Regions from separate parts of the Homo sapiens genome. Here regions 1, 2 and 4 are each linked to region 3. The links come from fine-mapping of genetic effects on gene expression. A gene starts in region 3. Each other region holds a variant in brackets. All regions are shown on one strand. Distances are between the middles of the regions. Region 1 overlaps SCARB1 (scavenger receptor class B member 1). Region 2 overlaps SCARB1 (scavenger receptor class B member 1). Region 3 holds the start of SCARB1 (scavenger receptor class B member 1). Region 4 overlaps SCARB1 (scavenger receptor class B member 1).

What was found. PIP is the estimated chance that this variant, and not a neighbour inherited with it, causes the effect. A credible set is the group of variants that fine-mapping cannot tell apart.
Region 1: its variant is the best candidate, but not a certain one, in a credible set for the expression of SCARB1 in monocytes after interferon gamma (Fairfax 2014, PIP 0.65).
Region 2: its variant is the best candidate, but not a certain one, in a credible set for the expression of SCARB1 in monocytes (Quach 2016, PIP 0.78).
Region 4: its variant is the best candidate, but not a certain one, in a credible set for the expression of SCARB1 in whole blood (TOPMed, PIP 0.89).

Annotation. Positions count from the first base shown.
Region 1 is chr12:124,840,672-124,845,823 of GRCh38, forward strand. The region is part of intron 1 of SCARB1 (scavenger receptor class B member 1); the gene reads right to left. Among named protein-coding and RNA genes, the nearest start is that of SCARB1, 21 kb to the right of the region's middle. The variant G/GC (reference allele first, on the strand shown) is at 2,628.
Region 2 is chr12:124,774,906-124,780,027 of GRCh38, forward strand. It overlaps SCARB1 (scavenger receptor class B member 1), which reads right to left. Exons shown (of 13, transcript NM_005505.5): 13 at 1,951-3,681. Among named protein-coding and RNA genes, the nearest start is that of SCARB1, 86 kb to the right of the region's middle. The variant C/T (reference allele first, on the strand shown) is at 2,142.
Region 3 is chr12:124,860,985-124,866,136 of GRCh38, forward strand. SCARB1 (scavenger receptor class B member 1) reads right to left here and starts at 2,880. Exons shown (of 13, transcript NM_005505.5): 1 at 2,611-2,880. The coding sequence starts at 2,736. LOC105370050 (a long non-coding RNA gene) reads left to right here and starts at 3,078. Exons shown (of 3, transcript XR_945488.3): 1 at 3,078-4,620. RefSeq lists enhancers at 708-1,234, 3,328-3,527, 4,915-5,084 and silencers at 1,058-1,187, 2,418-3,097.
Region 4 is chr12:124,812,712-124,817,863 of GRCh38, forward strand. SCARB1 (scavenger receptor class B member 1) reads right to left here. Exons shown (of 13, transcript NM_005505.5): 2 at 4,839-4,996; 3 at 2,262-2,403; 4 at 1,491-1,694. Among named protein-coding and RNA genes, the nearest start is that of SCARB1, 49 kb to the right of the region's middle. RefSeq lists enhancers at 952-1,121, 4,018-4,517. The variant A/G (reference allele first, on the strand shown) is at 2,726.

The DNA.
Region 1 (5,152 bases), 20 kb before region 3:
CACCCTTGATTCCTCTCCTTCCCTCGCACCCCAGTCCACTGACCTATCTTGTTGACTCTCCCTGAAAAAAAACTCGAATATGTTCCCTTCTTTCCATTTAGAAAACTACCCCCACCTGGCTCAAATCACCATCTTCTCTGCCTCCCCGCTTCCAGCCTGGCCCCCGACACTCCCTTCTCCAGACAGCAGCCAGAGAGCTCTTCAAGACTGAGTCAGGCTGGGCGTGGTGGCTCACACCTGTAATCCCAGCCCTTTGGGAGGCCAAGGCAGGTGGATCACCTGAGGTCAGGGGTTCAAGACCAGCCTGCCCAACATGGTGAAACACCATCTTTACGAAAAATACAAAAATTAGCCGAGTGTAGTGGCACGCACGTGTAATCCCAGCTACTCAGAAGGCTGAGGCAAGAAAATTGCTTGAGGCTGGGCGCGGTGGCTCACGCCTGTAATCCCAGCACTTTGGGAGGCCGAGGTGGGCGGATCACGAGGTCAGGAGATTGAGACCATGCTGGCTAACACGGTGAAACCCCGTATCTACTAAAAATACAAAAAAATTAGCCGGGCGTGGTGGCGGGCGCCTGTAGTCCCAGCTACGCGGGAGGCTGAGGCAGGAGAATGGCATGAACCAGGGAGGCGGAGCTTGCAGTGAGCGGAGATTGCGCCACTGCACTCCCCCGCCTGGGCAACAGAGCAAGACTCCGTCTCAAAAAAAAAAAAAAAAGAGAATTGCTTGAACTCGGGAGGCGGAGGTTGCAGTGAGCTGATACCATGCCACTGCACTCCAGCCTGGGCGACAGAGAAAGACTCTGTCTCAAAAAAAAAAAAAAAAAATACTGAGTCAGATCATGGCTCTTCCCTGCTCAGAACCCTCCATGGAATTGAAAACCAAATCTGAACTCCTCCAGGTGTCCTGCAAGGCCCCCACATGCCTGTCCCCTTTCACCCCCTCCAGTCACTTCTCCCAACCCCACTGGCCTGCTCCCTCTTCCTCCAACACAGCAGGCTCCTTCGCACCTCCGGCCTTTGAACCTGCTGTGCTCTTTGCCAGCTGCTCCCCAGCTCATAGAGCCCCTCCTCTGAGAGGCCCTCCTGACTCCCACATCAGAAGGAGTCCCCTTCCCAGCAGTGGCTCCATGTCAGCTCACCTGCCTCGTCCCCTTCCTAGCTCTTCTCGCCACCCCACCTCTTCCATGTGCTTCTCCATGGCCCATCCCTCCTGCTAAAGCGTAGCTGCCGTGAGCAGGACCAGGTCTCTTTTGTCCACGGCTGTAGCTCCAACACTTGGCACGAGACCTGGCCCACAATTTGTGAGCAGTAAACATGGGCCGAAAGGATGAGTAGCTTTCCCTGCCACTTCAGCCCTGGGGGTCCCTCCTCCTCCTCCCACAGTCCTGTGTGCCCCATTCAGGTGGTTCATAAACAGCTGCCCGGAGCAGATTCTCCACTGGGGTTTGTCCCATCTGTAAAATGAGGGTTGTAAATGTGCCCAAACAGCTGGGGATGAATGCAAAGCGCCCCACGCCCCGTGTCACTCCCAGCCAGGAGCAAGAGGGCACCATGCCAGTGCTGCCTCTGGCCCAGGCAGTCACCTGTCCAGGGGAAACAGGCCTCTAAGGCTCCAATGGCCTCACGCACTGGAGTTCATCAATAACACAAGCCGAGAAAGCCCCAGGAAAGCTGGAGACGCTGCCGGAAATGCAAAGCTGCTCATTCTTCCATCCGTCCCAGCTAAAGGGGTTCGAGGAAGCTCCTCCCCACACACCTCCCAGGGTGGAAGGGGACCTCATATCTCAGCGGGGCTCTGGCCCTGGCCCCAGCATCCCAGTCCCTGTCTCTTCTCCCTGCCCCCACCAAGGACACAGATGCCCAGGCCTGCTGGCAGCTTCATCACACTTATCTGCACTCCCAAGCCACAGATTACAGCTGTCAGGCCCAGAGGAAACGTGGCGGTCACATCAACCCTGACTCTGAAAACAGCCCTGAAAGACACAGGGGTGTTTCCAGCACAGCAAGGTCTTACTGGAAAGGACCCCTGGACCCCAATGTCCTAGAGGTGTGCCCCACGACCCCACATGCCCCTCTTCACTGCTCTGGCCTTTGGGAAACACAGCCCTGTCCTTTACAAGGTCCTATTTGCAAAGCCTGCTGGGAGACAGAGGCCCAGGGCTCGGATGAGGATGGGTTCTGTGCGGGAACAAGAGATGCCAAGATCCACCTAGGTGCCCCAGCCAAGAGGCAGAAAAGCATGGGAACCGTGTGCCCTTGTGGGACGTGTGCCACGGACGGGAAGGATACGGGTGTGGGTCCCCCTCTGTGGACGCAAACATGTTTATTGCAGGAAGGAAAAACAAGGAACTATTAACCCAAGTCACCTCTGGAGCAAAGACCAGCTGGGGCCAGGGGAGCAGTGTCGTGCTGTGATCTTTCCAGAAGGCTGACTCTTTTTCCGTACACTTTTAATTTGTTTGATCATATCCCTATTTTACCTTCCTTATTTTTAATGCCAGCCAGGGCTTTCTGGGTAAGAGCTGGGCACACCCAGGGAGAGGCACGTGACCATCCGCAGCTGCTCTCCTTGGCCTCCAGTTTGTTTTGTTTTTGTTTCTTACTTTCTGTGGAGATGGGGGGGG[G/GC]GGTCTTACTATGTTACCCAGGCTGGTCTTGAACTCCTGGCCTCAGGCGATCCTCCCACCTCTGCCTCGCTAAGTGCTGGGATTACAGGCATGAGCCACTGCGCCTGGCCTTGACTTCTGGTTTGTGAGATGGAAGAACATTGGCCCCATGTGCAGAGGTGGAAATCGGCTTTTAGGAAAAAAGTGAGTTTCCACAGGACCCAAGTAATGGGACCTGGATTTGAACCCAGAGCTCTGCAGATCTGAGGATTGGGCACCTGCACACATAGTGCTGGTCTGAAGCATGTCCCCTGCCAAATTCATGCCCACCTAGAACCTCAGAATGTGGCCTTATTTAAAAATAGGGTCTCTACAGATGTTACCAAGTTAAGGATCCCAAGATGAGATCATCCTGGATTTATGAAGGGCCCTACATCCAAGCTGGAGGCCCTCCAAGCCCAAGCTGGTGGGGTCTAGCCCCAGTTTGCTCTGTGACCCTCCAACATGGCCCTCAAAATCTCTGAGCCTCAGACCCCCACCTGAGGACTTATGAAAGGAAGAAGACTCAAATTCACACCTCAGAAAAGCACATGAGAACAATGCTGCACCACGTACCCTCACTGAGACCCCAGACATTCTCGAAGACTAAATCGTCTCAGGTGCTGGAGAGGATGTGAGAGCTGGGAGGGTGAACAGCAGTGGCCCTTCTGGAAGGCATGTTGGGTGAAAATGGCTCCCCCTCTGCCCTACAGCAATTCCACTCCTGCGCATCCCCAGGAAATTGTGGAGAAGTACAAGGCAGCAGGGTCCAGCATATTTGCTGTTTGTGGAGGCAGGAGTCAGACATAACCAAGGTACCCCCGTCGCTAAGGGAATAAATACAACAGGATGAACATGAATTAGGGGGTCCAGGCAGCAGAAGGAAGCAATAAGCCTGATACACACATAGGAACACGGATAGATTTTAAACAGGGCAGCACGAGGAATGTTGACACGAGTTACCGTGCATGGCATGGAAAAGCCGCCCTCTCCTCAGACGTGACAGGCCACATGAAGGGGGCCTCCCTGTGCCACCCCCAGCTCAAAGCACTTCCACCTCTAGCTCCCTCGGTCCTCACTGAATCCTATAGGAAGGCATGGTTTTAGCCCATTTTATAGGCACCCTACTATTATGAGCTGAACAGTGTCCCCCCAAAATTCCCATGTTGCAGCCCTAACCCTCGGTGCATCAGAATGTGACTGTATTGGCGCGGGGGGCAGGGCCTTTAAATCGGTGATTACGTTTAAATGAGGTCAGTGGGGTGAGCCCTAATCCAATCTGACTGACGCCCTTAAAAGAGGAGATTAGGACCCGCAGAGAGTCACCGGGGATGTGCGCACACAGGGAGAAGGTGGCGTCTATGAGGCCGGGAGAGGGGTCTCCGGAGAAGCCAGCCCTGCCAACATCCTGATCTCAGACTTCCGGCCTCCAGAACTGTACGGGAATACATGGTCTTTGGCCCATGCACCTGTTATGGACATTTTTTTCTTTCTTTCTTTCTTTTTTTTTTTTTTTTGAGACAGAGTCCTGCTCTGTTGCCCAGACTGGAGTGCAGTGGCACGATCTCGGCTCACTGCAACCTCTGCCTCCCATGCAGACTCAGACACCCACCAGAGACCAGAGACTCGAAGAGCCTGTCCATGGTCACACAGCAGCAGGAGGCAGGGCCGGGATCTGGACCCACACCTGCAGGCTCCGGAATCTAGGACTGCACAAGGTCCAAGGACACACTCAGGTTTACAGACGCAGCCACACAGAGGATGGGCGCAGGGGCAGGGCGGGCTGAAGAGCGAGAGGGGTGAGGGGAAGGAGGGCATAAAAGGAGACCACTGAAAGCAGAAGCCAAGCGAGTTCCCGAACATGCGCGCTCCCAGCAGCACCGCTCCCGGCAGCCACCAGCCCAGACGCCCATCCACAGAGGCGCGGAAAAACAGCATGCAGTGCACCCGCACCGTGGAGGCCTGCTCAGCTACAAAAAGGAAAGCAGCACTCCACATGCCACACCACGGATGAACCCCAAAACATGACGCTAAGCGGAAGCAGCCAGGCACTTAAGGCCACACATTGCATGATTTCATTTATAAGAAATGTGCAGGGCCGGGCACGGTGGCTCAGGCCTGTAATCCCAACACTTTGGGACCGAGGCAGGTGTTTGACCTGAGGTCAGGAGTTTGAGACCAGCCTGGCCAACATGTGAAACCCCGTCTATATTAAAAATACAAAAAAAAAAAAAAAAAATTAGCCGGGCGTGGTGGCGGGCGCCTGTAGTCCCAGCTACTGGGGAGGCTGAGGCAGGAGAATCGCTTGAACCCAGGAGGCGGAGGTTGCAGTGAGCCGAGATCACGCCACTGCATTCCAGCCTGGGTGACACAGCAAGACTCTGCCTCAAAAAAAAAAGAAATGTCCAGGGCCGGGCACGGTGGCTCAGGCCTGTAATCCCAACACTTTGGGACCAAGGCAGGTGGATGACCTGAGGTCAGGAGTTTGAGACTAGCCTGGCCAACAT
Region 2 (5,122 bases), 86 kb before region 3:
GCCCAAATCTCATCTCGAATTGTAGTTCCCATAATTCCCATGTTGTGGGAGGGAGCCAGTGGGAGATCATTGAATCATACGGGCGGTTAACCCCATACTGTTCTCCTGGTGGTGAGTAAGTCTCACAAGATCTGATGGTTTGATCGGGGGTTTCCCCTTTCACTTGGCTCTCATTCTCTCTTCTCTGGTCCCATGTAAGACATGACTTTGCTTCTCCTTTGCCTTCCACCATGATTGTGAGGCCTCCCCAGCCATATGAACTGTGAGTTCATGAAACCTTTTTTCTTTAAAAGTTACCCAGTCTTGGGTATGTCTTTATCAGTGGCGTGAAAACCAACTAATGCAATTGCCAAAGGCTGCAACCACTCTACGTGTCCCTCAATAAGTGAACGGCTGAAAAGCACTGGTGTGTGCACCCCATGGAGTTCTGCTCAGCAGTGAAAAGAAAGGAACTATTGCTACACACAACAACAGGCATGCATCTAGAGACAGTGCTGAGTGAAGGAAGCCAGGCTCAGAGGGTTACAGGCTGTAGATCCCATTTAGAACATTCTGGAAAAGGTAAAAATAGCTAGTGGCCAAGGGCTAAGCATGGGGATGAGGGACTTCCCTACAAAGTGGGAGGAAGGCAGCACAGGTCGCAGGCTGGGTGCAGTGGCTCACGCCTCTAATCCCAGCACTTTGGTAGGTTGAGGTGGGACTAATGCTTGAAGCCAAAAGTTTGAGACCAGCCTGGGCAACAGAGCCAGACCCCCATCTCTACAAAAAAAAAATTAGCCAGGTGTGGTGGCACACATCTGTGGTCCCAGCTACTCGGAAGGCTAAGTCAGGAGGCTCTCCTGAGCCTGGGAGGTGAAGGCTGCAGTGAGTCAAGATTGAACCACTGCACTCTAGCCTGGGCAACAGAGCGAGACTCTGTCTCAAAAAAAAAAAAAAAAAAATTATGGGAGCCCACTGTAAAACAAACAAAAACAAAGGGAAGACATGAGGAAATCTTGGGGGATGATGAAATTGTTTTGTCTTGATTGTAGGGGTAATGACTCAACTCTATAAACATGTCAAAATTCATGGAATTGTACACACACTCACACACAACTCTAATCTGTAAATGAAAAAGATATATAAAATGCATACCAAAAGGACATGCATTCCAATAAAATTTTGCTACTTTGATATGTCACATAAAACATAGTAATATAGTTTTGACCAATTGTGTCCTGAGACTTGAAAGGCAATCCAGATGGTATAGGCTAAATGTTTGTGTTGACCCAAAATTCCTGTTGAAGCCCTAACCTCCAGTGTGGCTGTGTCTGGAGATGGGGCCTCTAAGAAAATAATTAAATGAGGCCCTGATCTGATAGCATCAGTGTCCTTATAAGAGACACCACAGAGCTCTCGCTCTCCCTCTCTCTTCCCCCTTTCACACCGAGGAAAGGCCATGTGAGGACACAGAGAAGGCGGCCGTCTGAAGCCAGGAAGAGACGCCTCACCAGAACCCAACCCTGCTGGAACCCTGGTCTCAGACTTCCAGCCTCCAGAGCTGTGAGAAATAAATGGTTTAAGCCACCTATTGATGGTATTTTTTCTTTTTGAGACAGTGTCTCACTCTGTCTCGCAGGCTGGAGTGCAGTGGCATGATCACAGCTCACTGCAGCCTCAACCTCTTGGCTTCCAGCAATCCTACCTCAGCCTCCTGAGTAGTTGGGACCACAGGCGCCCACCACCACGCCTGGCTAATTTTTGTATTTTTTTTGTATTGATGAGGGTCTCACCATATTACCCAGACTAGTCTTGAACTCCTGGCATCAAGCAATCCTCCGGTCTTGGCCTCCCACAGGGCTGGGATTACAGGCGTGTGCCACCACGCCCGGCCTTGATGGTATTTTGTTATGGCAGCCCCAGACCTAAAAAAATTTACCCTTGATGGTCACAAGAAATAAAAAAAAAAAGTTTGCTTCAACTTATATATTTATGTTGCAGGCAAGTATAGGAGTGATTAATAAAAGGCTTAAAAGCATCAAATATAAATATCATTTAGATAAAATTTTAGGAGGGAAGAAGAAAGGAAATACAAGTTTAAGGGGAAAAGGGCTAACATTTCTGACCATAAAAGAGCTTGTTCGTATATTCTTTGAAATGTT[C/T]GGCAGTGAATACCCTCTCCTCTCCTAGTTAGATCCCAGCGGGCACACTTAAATACTGATGAAATGGTCTCATATTCAAACATCAACGATGATGACAATCGGAGAAAATTCCATCCTTTGCAATGATCTACACTTAAGATGAGAACTTTTAGATGGCTCCAATCTGTTCTCTTACCCGCTTCTCTTCTTCACCATTTATGTAACGAGCAGAAAGCAAAGGCCTAGAACAACACGGGGCATGTCCTATGGGCACCAGGATTTGTAGATAAATGCACAGAAACACATCCAGGGGGCCCCATGCAAAAGTGGCAAAAGCGTCTGCACTGGGGGCTGTGGGATGGGACTCAGACCCTGCTGCTTCTAAACAAGGGCGTACTCATGCAGTATTTCTATGAAACTCAACATTGCACAAGGTTGAAATTTGAAAACAACAGGAAGGTAAGCCAGCAGCCCGGCCCTGGGAGAGACGCTCTTGGCAGCCACCAGAAAGGAGCTATTGACCAAGAGAAGAGGAGCCCGGAACTTCCCAGAGGCCCCCACCCCCACGACCTCAGCAAACAAGGCTGTCACAGAGGCAGGCATCCCATTTTTTTAAACGTTTATTACTTCAAGAGTGAATTATTTTTCAAAGATGATAAAACTCATTTCTATTCCAGTAGAAAAGGGTCACAGGTTTGCCCCAGGGTCCAGGAGCGCCCGGAAGGCAGGGCCCCCAGGCCTCTTCACCTCAGCCTGGGCACCTATAATCTGAGGGACCCTGTGAGGGGGTGGGGGCAGCTCGGGGGCACAGCCTGCGGCCACTTCGGCCAGAGAGTGGCCGGCTCAGTCCATAGGATGATGTCAGTTTAGGCTGGAGGAAAAGGGCGCCAGACAACCCGATGCAGTGCCTGTGAAGACTTCGGGGGGATCAAAGTCCGGCCGGGGTGGGCGGAGACCCTCGGGCAGCTGCACAGGGCATCTTGTGCTCACTCCATTGTTTTCCGAGGCCTGTGTAAAGGCGCTTTGCCTGGCCTGGCAGGTAGACCAAGGCCAAAGCTCGTGGCCAGGGCCTGGGCACTGAGTCCCCACTGAATTTGGCACAGGAAGGCGGCACTCCCAGCCTGGCCCGTCCTGCATGGGGAGCCACCACACCGGGACTGCAGTGTTTCACCTTGGAGGGGAGGAAGCCTGGGCCCAACGGCTGAACGGGACAGGCCAGGCTCACCCGAGGAAGGGGACGCAGGACCCACAGCCCCTGTGGTCAGGCCTGTGGGCCACGTGGAGAGAAGGTTCCAGAACAGTGCTTGTTGACGAGCCTCTCCCTACAAGTCCCTTCAGCAGCAGCTCCATCCCTGAGTGTCTGCACAAGCCTGCACGCATGTGTGTATGTGTGCCAGGGCGTGTGTGCAGGTGTGCAACAGGCACATGGCAGCTGGGAGGCTCAGGCTGTGGGGCTGGGGGGCTGTCCGCTGGGAGAGTCCGGGAGAAGCGGGGTGTAGGGGCTGGGGGGCCGGTCAGGCCCAGCGGCCAGGCCTGGCTGGCTCACGGTGTCCTCAGGACCCTGTGGAGAAAGGCAAAGCTGGGTGACCACCCACGCCCTGTCACCAAACCCCACCCTCATCCCCGCCCACCACAGCCCTGTACCCACATCCCCAGCAGAGACTCCACCCCCGCCACCAGGCTGTCAGAAGTGAGAAGAGACTGGAGTCACCTATAGACTCCTGGAATGACTCCAAGGGCCTCTTCATCTCACTCAACACCCGCCTGGCCTCCCCGACCTCCTTTAGAGATGGAGAAACTGAGGCCCAAAGAGACTTAATACAGTGAGGGGCAGAGCAAGGGGGGCGGCCTGTGTGCAGCACAGTCAACATGGAACAACCGGGGCAAGCTCTGTCCCTCAGGAGGAGAACGTATGTTTATGTGTTGATTTATTTTTTATTTTTTAGAGACGGTCTCTCTCTGTCGCCCAGGCTGGAGTACGGTGGTGCCATCATGGCTCACCACGGCCTTGAACTCCTGGGCTCAAGTGATCCTCCCACCTCGGCCTCCCAAGTGGCCGGGACAATGACACGTGCCACCACCACGCCCGGCTCATTTTTTAATTTTTTGTAGAGATCAGGTCTATGTTGCCCAGGCTGGTCTCGAACTCCTGGGCTCAGGCGATCCTCTCACCTCAGCCTCCCAAAGCGCTGGGATTCCAGGCGTGAGACACCATGCCTGGCCTGTGTTTTTAAACCCATGTCACAGGACGGTATTCAGCCTGAACAGTATTCCTGAACAGAAGACAGGGAGGAAAGCCAGCCACACAGCAATACACGCAGCAGGATGCAGCTTCGGTCACATTCAAAAAGTGACCTCATGCTCATGGCTGCGCACATGCAGATTCAGAAAAAACAAACCCACGTGCCAAGTTCCTGGCCATGGCTGCTCAGGGTATGCGGGGCGCAGGACGTGGGGAGGGGGACGAGGGCCACCCAGGGAACGAGTGAAACCAAGGGCATGAGATGCTGGCCATCTTCAACACTGACAGCTGTCAGCAATGGCTGCGTCTGGGTGAGGGGAACTGGATACTGTCATTTGTCTAGTTTGACAGTTGTAGAAAATTTCTCAACTTAAAAATTAAAAATACAGATAATGCTAATGATAAGAGTGTGGGGTGAGCCTTCGTCCCACTAAGCCCCCTGCCTCCCTTGCCCTGAGCAACAGAGGCCTCCCTGCCCCGGTGGCTGGGGCTGGAAACCGCTGCCCACCTCCGCCCACCTGTGCTTGCTTCACCACGGGGTAGGAAAATCAAACTCCTGCTCAGGGCAGAGAGCGGGCACAGGGGCCAGGGTCTGCTGCACTGAGCCAGGCGCGGGGGAGGTCAGCCCCGCCCCCACACCACCCACTGAGGCAGCACAGGACACCCACAGGTGGCTAGACCTTAGCCATGTGGGCCCAAAGAGCCGTGACTTGAGAAGGTCTCACTCAGAAGTAGAAAGGGGAAACCACCCCTAGGCTGT
Region 3 (5,152 bases):
TACACAGAAAAGGGTCTAGAAAGATCCACATCAATGATGGTGATAATAGCTCAGGAGGGGAATAAAATGGGGGAAACTTTCTCTCTTTTCCTCCATTTGAACTTTTTTTTACGAGCAAGTATTCATATATTTTATATAAAGTCGTCCCTCAATGTCAGAGGGGAATTGGTTTCAGGACCCCCATAGATACCAAGATCTGCAGATGCTCAAGTCCCCGACATAAAATGCTGTGGTATTTGCATATCACCTATGCGCATCCTCCCGTATTCTTTAAATCATCTCTAGGTTACTTATAATACCTAATACGATGTAAATGCTATGTCAATAGTTGTTATACAGTATTGTTTTTATGTCTTTTTTTAGTTGTATTGTTATTTTGGGGGGATTTTTTCTGAAAACTTTTCATCTGCAGTTGATTGAATCCACGGATGCAGAACCTGCAGACACAGAGGGCCAACTGTAGGGACTTCTGTTGTTAACCAAAAAGCACATTAAAAAAAAAAAATAAAAGCACAAGGCCTCCCATTCAAGTTGCACACAGACTCATGTAGCCAAAGAAAACACCAGCGGGCAGTCCCTGCTTATGCGTGTGTCTCACCCGCCTGGTCCCCTGAACACAGGCTCTCTTCTTCCATGCTAAGGCACTTGGCCGCTGCTCCAGCCTGGGCGGTTCCAGAAGTGGCCGTCTTGGGCTGGGCGTGTCTTCCTGCCTTCACACCACTCGGCCCCAAACCAATCGCCTTTGGGATATCCACAGAAGGATGCTGGGAGGCTCCTGTTCAACTTTAAGCCAGATGCTCCTAGCTCCAGGACAATTGAGGACAATGTGGTTTTCCTCTTTAGAAGCCCAGGAGAGGAGTGGGGAAATTTGGTGGTGCATGCATGTGTGGTGCACACACACACACACACATCCTACTGACATACTTAACCTGATGACATCCTGAGAAAGAAAACACCTTGAAATAAGCCCCCGAATAACTGAGTTGGCAAGACTCTTTACCTGGCATAAGTCCCCACACTCCCATAGCAAGAGACCAGGTGCTCACTCACAGCACAGGGTCACATGCTTGAACTGCCTGAGTGATAGCCCCTCTAGGGACCCTGCATACACACAGTGGGGTCCTGGCACTGCAGCAGCCACAAGGCTGTCACTGACACACACGTTTCAGTATGAGTAGGCCACAGAAAAATAAAGCTCCCTCAGTGTAACAGAGAAAGCCTCTGAGCTGTCATGGGGGAGAAGAGGCCATTCTGCTGATTTTCCTGCCATCCCCAGAGACAGTGTCACCATCCACCGGGACCTCTTTGCAGTCAGATTACAGGCTTTGGCGGGACAAGATTTGAAAAATCAAAAATAGACACAACGTGGCTAAGATGCCCTAGACAACTGCTCACCCAGAGACCTTGAGAGAGACCATATGTTGCTCCATCTTTAAGGCCAGCTAGCTGGGTCCCAAGAAGTGTGGCAGCCAGATCTAAGCAGATCCTTCATTCATTCACTCATTCATTCGCTCTGTGAATGAGGGAACAGACATGAAATGTGGACAAGGAACCATTCTTAAGAAACCCAGTCCAAAGAGGCAGGCCAAGGGGAAAAGACGTCCATTAGAGTGACAATGTCCACATCTTCACCCCAGCTCTGCATCTGGCTAGAACTTTGATAAGAGTGAGCCCCAGTTTCCCCTCCCCGCCACTGCATGTGTGGGTTCCCAGGGCTTCAAAACTCTAAATGGCTTTTAGTTCAAATGTGATACTCTGCAATCTCCCAGCCCTTCCCTAACTCCAGGCTCATTCAAACAGGCCACCCAGGCACCCAGGGCAGAGTCTGTCCGTCTGCAGACCAGCTGACCGCCTAATCTGTCTCCCTGGTTGAAAGGGCAATGGTATGCAAAGTTAGGATCAGAGGAAAGACCTAAGGCTGCGTGCACTCAGAGGACCTTGGGCTGCTGCCTGCCTCTGCATGAATCTGGGGAGAAAAGCGGCTTATAGTTTCCAGACTGAATCATGGAGGCAGTGAGCAGGGAGAACAGAGTCGCGCATTCTGCCTCTGGGAGAGGGTTCCTATGGGGAGATTCTGGGCAGTGGAGGATGCTCAGCTGAGCACCTACCATGTGAGCTGGGCACCCACGTGGGTCTCACAGAAGGTTCCTGTCCTCCTGGGCTCACAGGATACAAGCAAAGTGCAGCTCTAATTTTACCGGACCCTGCTACCGGCTGCTGTGAAAGCAGACGTTCACACACTCTTGGGCTCCTTCGGGCGGCACCACGGAAGCAACCTGTCCACACTCCTGATCCGTCGTGGGCGCCCAGACCCTTTAGGGCGGGTCAGGCGCCCGGGTGGTCTCCCGTCCAGGCCTCCCCAACCCTGGCCTGCGCCTCCAGCAAAGCCCCTGGGTTCCCCCCTAGCCTCAGTCTGGGGCGGTGAGGGTGGTGGGGAGGCGGGCAGCAGCCCCTCCCGAAGCGCCTGGCCTCCCTCGTGCTCTGCGGCGCCAGGCCCGGGCGCCGATTCCGCTGCGGTCGCCCACCCACCGCAACGCGCGGGTCCTCCCGGCGCCCAGCGCCCAACAGCCCGGGTCCGTGCGCGGACCCCCTGGGGTCTCCCTCACCCACCTTAAGGACCTGCTGCTTGATGAGCGACGGCACCATCACGATCATGACAGCGCCCAGCACAGCGCACAGTAGCCCCGCGACGCCCAGCGCCCCGGCAGCCCAGCGCGCTTTGGCGGAGCAGCCCATGTCTGCGCGCCTGGGGCCCACCCGCGGCTCGCAGGGCTCCGCGCCTGGCAGGAGACGGGGACGGCGACAGAGACGACACAGGCGGGGACTCCGGGCACGCAGGCCGCAGAGGCACGGTGGATCCGGGACGGCAGCGCACGCAGGAGCAGCCCGGCAGGTGGCCAGTGGTTTTATGCCCCATCGCCGGCGCCGCCGGACCGCCCCCGGGCAGCCTTGGGCTTCAGGATTCCGGCGGCAGGGGCGGGGCCTGAGCGGGCCCGGGGCGGGGTCGGGGCGGGGACGGGGCGGGGCGCTGATCGGACGGGCAGGGGGCGGGGCCATGGCCGCCAAGACAAGCCCCGCCATGCTGCCGCTGCCCCCACGGCCTCGCTTCCGTTTTGGGGCGGGAGCTGAGGAGGCCTCGTGGCCGCTGAGCCAAAACGTCTATGGGGCCTGGTGCCCCTCACCCTCTTGCTCCCTTCCCCTTTCTCCTACCCCTTCCCCCACCTATGTCTCCCCTCCTCCCAGCTCTCCCCTCTGAGCCCCTCACCCTTCCTTTTCCCTCCTCCTCCCTCTCCTCCTCTATCGGGACCATCATCATGGTTGGTCACTGTGAGTAGGACTTCGCCAGCCCACCCAGGAACCCCAGAGCCCTTACAACGGTCCACATGCCCCGCCACCACCTTCTAGACCCTCATCTCCGCAGTCCATCTCCAGCCTCACTGTCCCTGGAAGAAGCCCCGCAGGCTCCAGCCCCAGGGCCTCCATACACCCTGCACAGGCAATTCTGTTCTCCCAGGTATCCGCCTGGCCCTATCCTTCGTAACGCTGGTGCCACCATCACCCTATGACTGAGCACCCCCTGGCAGGTTCACGTTCATTTGCGTCCTTGCATTCTGACCATGTGCTCCAACTGGGATGCCAACCCGTGAGGCGGGCCCCCCCCCCCACGCGTCCTGAGCTCTAGAACGTGGCCTGGCAGGGAATGCCTGCTCACAGTAAATATTCTAGAATGAATGACTGAGGAGCCTTCTAGGTGCTGGCCCCTGTCCTGAGTGCTTTGCACACAATGGCTCCATTTTACAATAAGAAAACTGGGAGGTGGCTCACGCCTGTAATCCCAGCACTTTGGGAGGCCGAGGCGGGTGGACTTCATGGATCACCTGAGGTCGGGAGTTGGAGACCAGCCTGACCAACATGGCGAAACCCCGTCTCTACTAACAATACAAAATTAGCCAGGCGTAGTGGCGCATGCCTGTAATCTCAGCTACTCGGGAGGCTGAGGCAGGAGAATCGCTTGAACCCGGGAGGCGGAGGTTGTGGCGAGCCGAGATAGCGCCATTGCACTCCAGCCTGGGCAACAAGAGCGAAACTCCATCTCAAAAAAAAAAAAAAAGAAAAGAAAAAGAAAAAGAAAGAAAGAAATGAAAACTGATGCACAGGGAAGCTTAGTTAACCCAAACCAAGTCCCCACTTTCTAATGAAGAGGGAAACCAATGATGAGCACGTGAGCAAATGAATGAAGGATAATTGCAGGCAAGTGCTCCAAGAAAACAGAACAGGCCCGGTGCATGGTGGCCCACAACTGTAATCCCAGCACTTTGGAAGGTCCAGGTGAGGGATCACTTGAGGCCACTAGTTGGAGACCAGCCTGGGCAACATAGTGAGACCAGTCTCTACAGAAAATGAAAAGATTAACCAGCCACAGTGGCATGCGCTTGTCGCCCCAGCTACTCAGGAGGCTGAGGCAGAAGGATCCCTTGAGTCCCAGAGTTCAAGGCTGCAGTGAGCCCTGATCTTACCACCGCACTCCAGCCTGGGTGACAGCAAGACCCTGGGGGAAAAAGAAAAAAGAAAAAAGGGAGAGAAGTGGGCTGGCACTAAGTGGCAGTTGCCCTTAGATGGGTGAGTGTATCCCTGAAGCCCTCCACGCCCCCCTGAAGTCCTCCACCACACCCCACCTGGCCTGCCTTCTGGTCCCTGAAGTGCTGGCCAGTCCCCTCATTTTCTGAATGAAGTTACTGAGAAGAGACTCCTGGGTTACACAGGGACAGGAGGGTGGTGTCCCCAGCACGTGGGTAAGGCAGGCTCAGTCCTTGAGTGCTCCGAGGGAGGCTTTCTAAACCTCTTATTTAACTCCAGAAGAAAGCAGCCTTCTCGCAGGGCCATCCTTAAGCAACATGTCTTCGCCTGAACCAATATTTACAGAGCACCTGCTATGTTCTCGTTAGACAGCTTTGCCTGGCACTGCCTTCCTCTAAGGAGGCCGAATATGGTCCAGTGCCCCAAGGGGCAGGGCCCAACTCCTGAGGGAGGTCAGAGTGGCTGAGGTGAGACTGTGGTAGCCCCGGGGGACAGGTTCAGAGAAATCCAGGCTCTGGGGTTTCCCACATTGGAGTCCTGGGGCAAGTGGTTTGGGCCTTTCTGTGCCTCAGTC
Region 4 (5,152 bases), 48 kb before region 3:
GGGTGGAGCACACTGAGGAGCTCCAAGGTTGCCCGGCTGAGTGACTGCACCCATCACAGACCTCCAGAGCAGGACCCAGCACAAGGCCCCAGCCCAGCATCCCGGGTGTGTCTGTCACGTGCCCATGTGGAGCCAAGAATAACCAGAGCCACTACAAAGGGGAGCATTAAAGGGACTCATGTGCAAAAACGGCCAGGTACAGTGCACCGGACACAGTAAGAGCTCAAAATGATAGTCTTTATTTTCATTATTATTGTTATTATTAATAAATGCTCACCCAATAGGATACTTAAATGATCATTATAATGGACGGAGAGCATCAGAAACTGCCAGTTACTACCCAAAGCCCAATCTCTCCTTACTCTTTCATACAAAACCCAAACCATACTCAGAGCATCAGCACACCCAGCTAAAAGGCTACCTTTCCAGCTTCCCCTGGAGCTAGGTGTGGCCATGTGACTCAGTTCTGGCCAATAGAAAGGAAGTGGACATTGGTTTTCTTCCTCCCTAAGAGGGAGGAAACTGGAACACGCTGTTTTACCCCCAGTTCCTCCATCTGCTCCCCAAAGCCCCACCATTTTTTCCTTCTTGCTGTGCTGCCTGGAATGTGATGTGATTGCTGACACTCTAGCAGCCAACTTGGACAATGAGGTTATCTTGAGGATGAAAACCACATGCCAAGGATGGCAGAGCACAGTAGTAGAAGGCTTCCAGATCACTTAAGACCATGAAGCCACCACACCAACACTGAACAGCCTACCGCTAGACTTTTCTTGTGAGGTTTTCATTATATGCAGTCAAACGTAGATTATACTAAACTAGGGACTTTGTAATAACTTTCATTTGCAAAGCACTTCAGGATTTACAAGATGCCTTTACAGCATCATGCCACTTAGCCCAAACTTGCTCATTTACCCACACGACAGGAGCCCGTCACCCTTGACAAAAACGTACTGAGTATCTATCACACGCAGCACCACGATATCCCCCCCAGCACTCTACCCTGATCAGCAGAGACCAAAGAGATGGCTGAGGCTGGAGCAGTCCCAAGGACTCAGTGAAACCTGCGGTGAGGGAGCCAAGGTCAGGGTCAGACCCTCCATGGACGAGATGTTGGCTCCGAAGCCCAGTCAGTGACCCTACCAGGTTGCCAAGAGTCAAGATTAAGAGTCAGCTTGTGATATTACTCCCCAGCAGCCATGCCCCCTTCCTCCAGCAAAGCCTCCAATTTGCTAAGCTAAGGCCCAGTCACATCATTTGAGCCTGGATCAAGCTGTACCTGAATCCAACCCTAGCATTTTCAGTTCTATGAGCCCCAACATTCCCCATTTCACTCAAGCCGGTTTGAGTCAGGTTCTCAGTCACTTACAACCCACAGCCACTAGATCCCCAGCCAGCTACAAAGCAAGCTGGTGACCAGTGTCCAGGCTGTGTGAGGGGAAGACAGGACACAGGCCTGAATCTTTGGCTTCTCACCAGGCCACACGTACCTCAGCAAATAATCCGAACTTGTCCTTGAAGGGGAACATGCCTGGAAAGTACTTGTTGATGAGATTCACAAGGGGGTCCTTGTAGCCCCACATGATCTCACCCACAGTGCGGTTCATGAAGGCACGTTCGCCGAGGGTGGTGAATGCCAAGGTCATGATGAGCTTCAGGGTCATGGGCTTATTCTCCATCATCACCGCCGCACCCTGCAAGGCGAAGGGACACTAGTGTCAGAGGCTGGACGTGGCTGGCCCATCCTCCCTTGGCCCCAGCTGGGCCTCACAGCAAAGAGCCCATGAAGGGAAATGCTGGGGTGCAGGAGGCCCCTGGAGTGGCCACGTGGGGCATCTGGGACACCAGAACCACCCTCTGCTCCTCCAGTGCCAAGGCCACATGTGCTCCCGAGAACCCCTTCTCCCCCTTGCACCCCACTGGACTCAGGCTAAGTGAACTCCAGCCCCAGTCCCAGAGGCGGGCCTGTGGCTCAGCCCTCAACAAGACAGCCCCTTTTGGAGATCTCAGAAATGTAAATTGAAAAGGGAAAAAAAAGTACTTTGGCCAGGACTTCCAAACCAAGACAGGTGGACCCACCTGGGAAACTCAGAACCCACTGGGGGTGGTGGAGACAGCACAGGGCCGAAAGCCACCCACCAGGCGTGAGTCCCCACGCTCCGACCACCTCAGGGACTGCTCTCTGCACAAGGGGCAGGCGGGAGGAGAGACAGGGGACGAGGTCAGGGTGCGAGGCGGCGTGGGCCACAGGGCAGCCTCACCAAGACCAGGATGTTGGGCATGACGATGTAGTCGCTCTCCGAGCCGTGGGACTTGGAGGGCTGGAACTGGAAGGTGCGGTACTCGAGGAAGGACACGGTGTCGTTGTTGTTGAAGGTGATGTTGCTTTTGTGCCTGAACTCCCTGTGGGGGAAGCCAGTGGGTCAGACGCCCCGCCCCGCTGCATGGGACGTTTCCCTTCTACTCGCCTGCAATGCCTGCCTGGGAACCAGGGGCCCTGGACGTCTGTGCACACCTCCGGCCCCACAGCCAAAGCTGAGCTCGGCCCCTTCGCCAAGTCTGTCCCTCCCGCCGCCTGCCCACTGCAGGACATGGTGTCGCCGCCCACCCGGCCTCGTTCTGCTCTCCCCCACCCAACACGGCCATCGTCTCTCCATCTACAAAAGGAAGTAATCACAAGCCCTACTTCACAGGGCAGCTGTGGGGATTAAGCAATCAGATACCC[A/G]GAAAGCAATCAACACAGCCGCCGGGTGCAGAGAAAGCACGAGGTAAACATCAGCTGCTGTGACTGTTGCTGCTGCTGTCCTTATGATCTCTCATCTCTCCAAGCCACTCTCCACCATCCAGAAGAATCTTTGAAAAGTGGAAATCAGGTCGGGAGCAGTGGCTCATGCCTGTAAACCCAGCACTTTGGGAGGCTGAGGTGGGCAGATCACCTGATGTCAGGAGTTCAAGACCATCCTGCCCAACATGGCGAAACCACGTCTCTACTAAAAATACAAAAATTAGCTGGGCATGGTGGCAGATGCCTGTAATCCCAGCTACTCGGGAGGCTGAGGCAGGAGAATCGCTTGAACCTGGGGGGCGGACGTTGCAGTGAGCCGAGATCGCGCCACCGCACTCCAACCTGGGTGAAAGAGAGACTCCGTCTCAAAAAAAAAAGTAGAAATCAGATCGTGCCATGCTCTGGACCACAACCCCACTTTGCATGCAGGTTAAAATCAGGCTCCTAACGTGACCTCTGAGGCCCTCAGCAAGGCTCAGGCCTCGTCTCTCCACTGTCTCCCTCCCTCGTAACCCCAGCCGCACAGGCCTCTGTCCCAGCCTTCAGACCTTTGCACATGCTCTGCCCGGGACTCTGTCTCCCCAGGGCCTCTTCCCACCATGCGGGTCCAGTGAGTGTCCCTTTGCAGATGTGCTCCCGACCCTCCAGTCAGACCGAGCCCCAAGGCCACCCTCCCTCCTGCACTCCGGCTTCACACTGTTTTGTCTGCACAATACTGATGGCTGCCTGATTTCCCCTTATTTGTCCACTTCTTTACTCTCTCCCCATCAGAACATCAGCTTGGTGAGGCAGGGCCTTGGTCTGCCTGCGCCCCCAGCACACAGGAGGTGCTCAGTCAGTGCTCACAGAATGAAGGAGTATAGAGAGCTTTGGCATTTTTGCCCATTCTGTCCACTGCTGGGTCCCCTGTACTTAGAACGGCAGCCAACACCTAGCAGGTGCTCAGTAAACATTTGTTAAATGAACGAGCGAATGAGTGAATGAGTGAACGGAATGCAGCAGCTGATTCATGTTTCCCATTCCCAAACCTCAGGCACATTTGCTGGGTTTTCATCTTGGCTTTCCCAGAACCAGACTGTGGGTCTCCAACAGCGGGAACACCCTCTGCCCGCCCCATCCCTGGAACACCGTGTGCCGGGGGCAAGTCAGCTCCCCTGTCTGTGAACTGGGAAGTGGGGGTGTGGAGGAGGGGAGGTGCTGTGAAAACGCCAGGAGGTAAGGGAGTTGTAACAGGCACATCCGCCAGCCGTCTCAGAGCTCCGAGTGCATCCTGAGTGTCCCGGTGACCCCATGAAGGGGCTCTTGTGTCTCTCCAGTCTGCAGACGGGCAAACTGAGGCTCAGAGGAATGAAGTCACTTCCCCTAGGCCACAGCCAGGTACAGGACAAGCAGAAAGCAAAGGCACAACTCTGTGGTCCTTGGGCCAGCATGTTCCACAAACAGCTGACCCCTTCCCGTGCTGACCCACCCGGTCCTCTGGCCCAGATAGGGTCTGGGGGGTCGGTCCCTGCTCCTGGTCATGCATGTGTGTGTGTGTGTGTGTGTGTGTGTGTATGTGTGTATGCATGTGTAGGTACATGTGTGTGTATGTATGTGTGTGTGTATGTGTATGTACGTGTGTATGTATGTATGTGTGTATGTGTATGTGTATGTGTGTGTATGTATGTGTGTAACTCACACATGCACCCTCCACCCAGACGCACACCATTGGTCCCTCCCTGCTCCATAAAGAACCTCTCTAGGCAACGTCTGGTGATTCGCACCTGTAATCCCAGCACTTTGAGAGGCTGAGGCGGAGGATCGCTTGAGCCCAGGACTTCAAAACCAGCCTGGGCAACATAGCAAGATCCCATCTCTAAAAAAAAAAAAAAAAAAAAAAAAAACCCTAAAACAAAAACTTCTCTGGGACTAGCACTTACCCCGACTATGACTTGCCTGCTTCCGGAACAATCTCTGGGGCTCAGTCAGCAGCCTCCCCATCCCGTCCACTCTGAGACCCCTCCCCTGCCCAGCCTCAGCCGGCCCCTCCACCCTCACCTGGACACAGCCTCACCTGTACACGTAGGGCCCGCGCTCCCGCACCTGCGGCTTCTCGCCCTTCAGGATCTCGCTGGGGTTCATGACGTCAAAGAAGTAGACGGAGAGATAGAAGGGGATAGGGATCTCCTTCCACATGTTGAAGGACAGGCTACTGGGGTCGATGCGCACGTTCTGCAGGGGAAGGGACAAGTACGCTTGTGAGGAGAGTGATGAGGGCCCCACGCCCCACCACAAGGCTCCGGAACAGCTGCCCGAGCCCGGCCAGGGAAGGGGCTCCTCGGCGGGAGCTTGGGATAGGAGGTGGTGGGAAAGCCCTTCGCACATGAG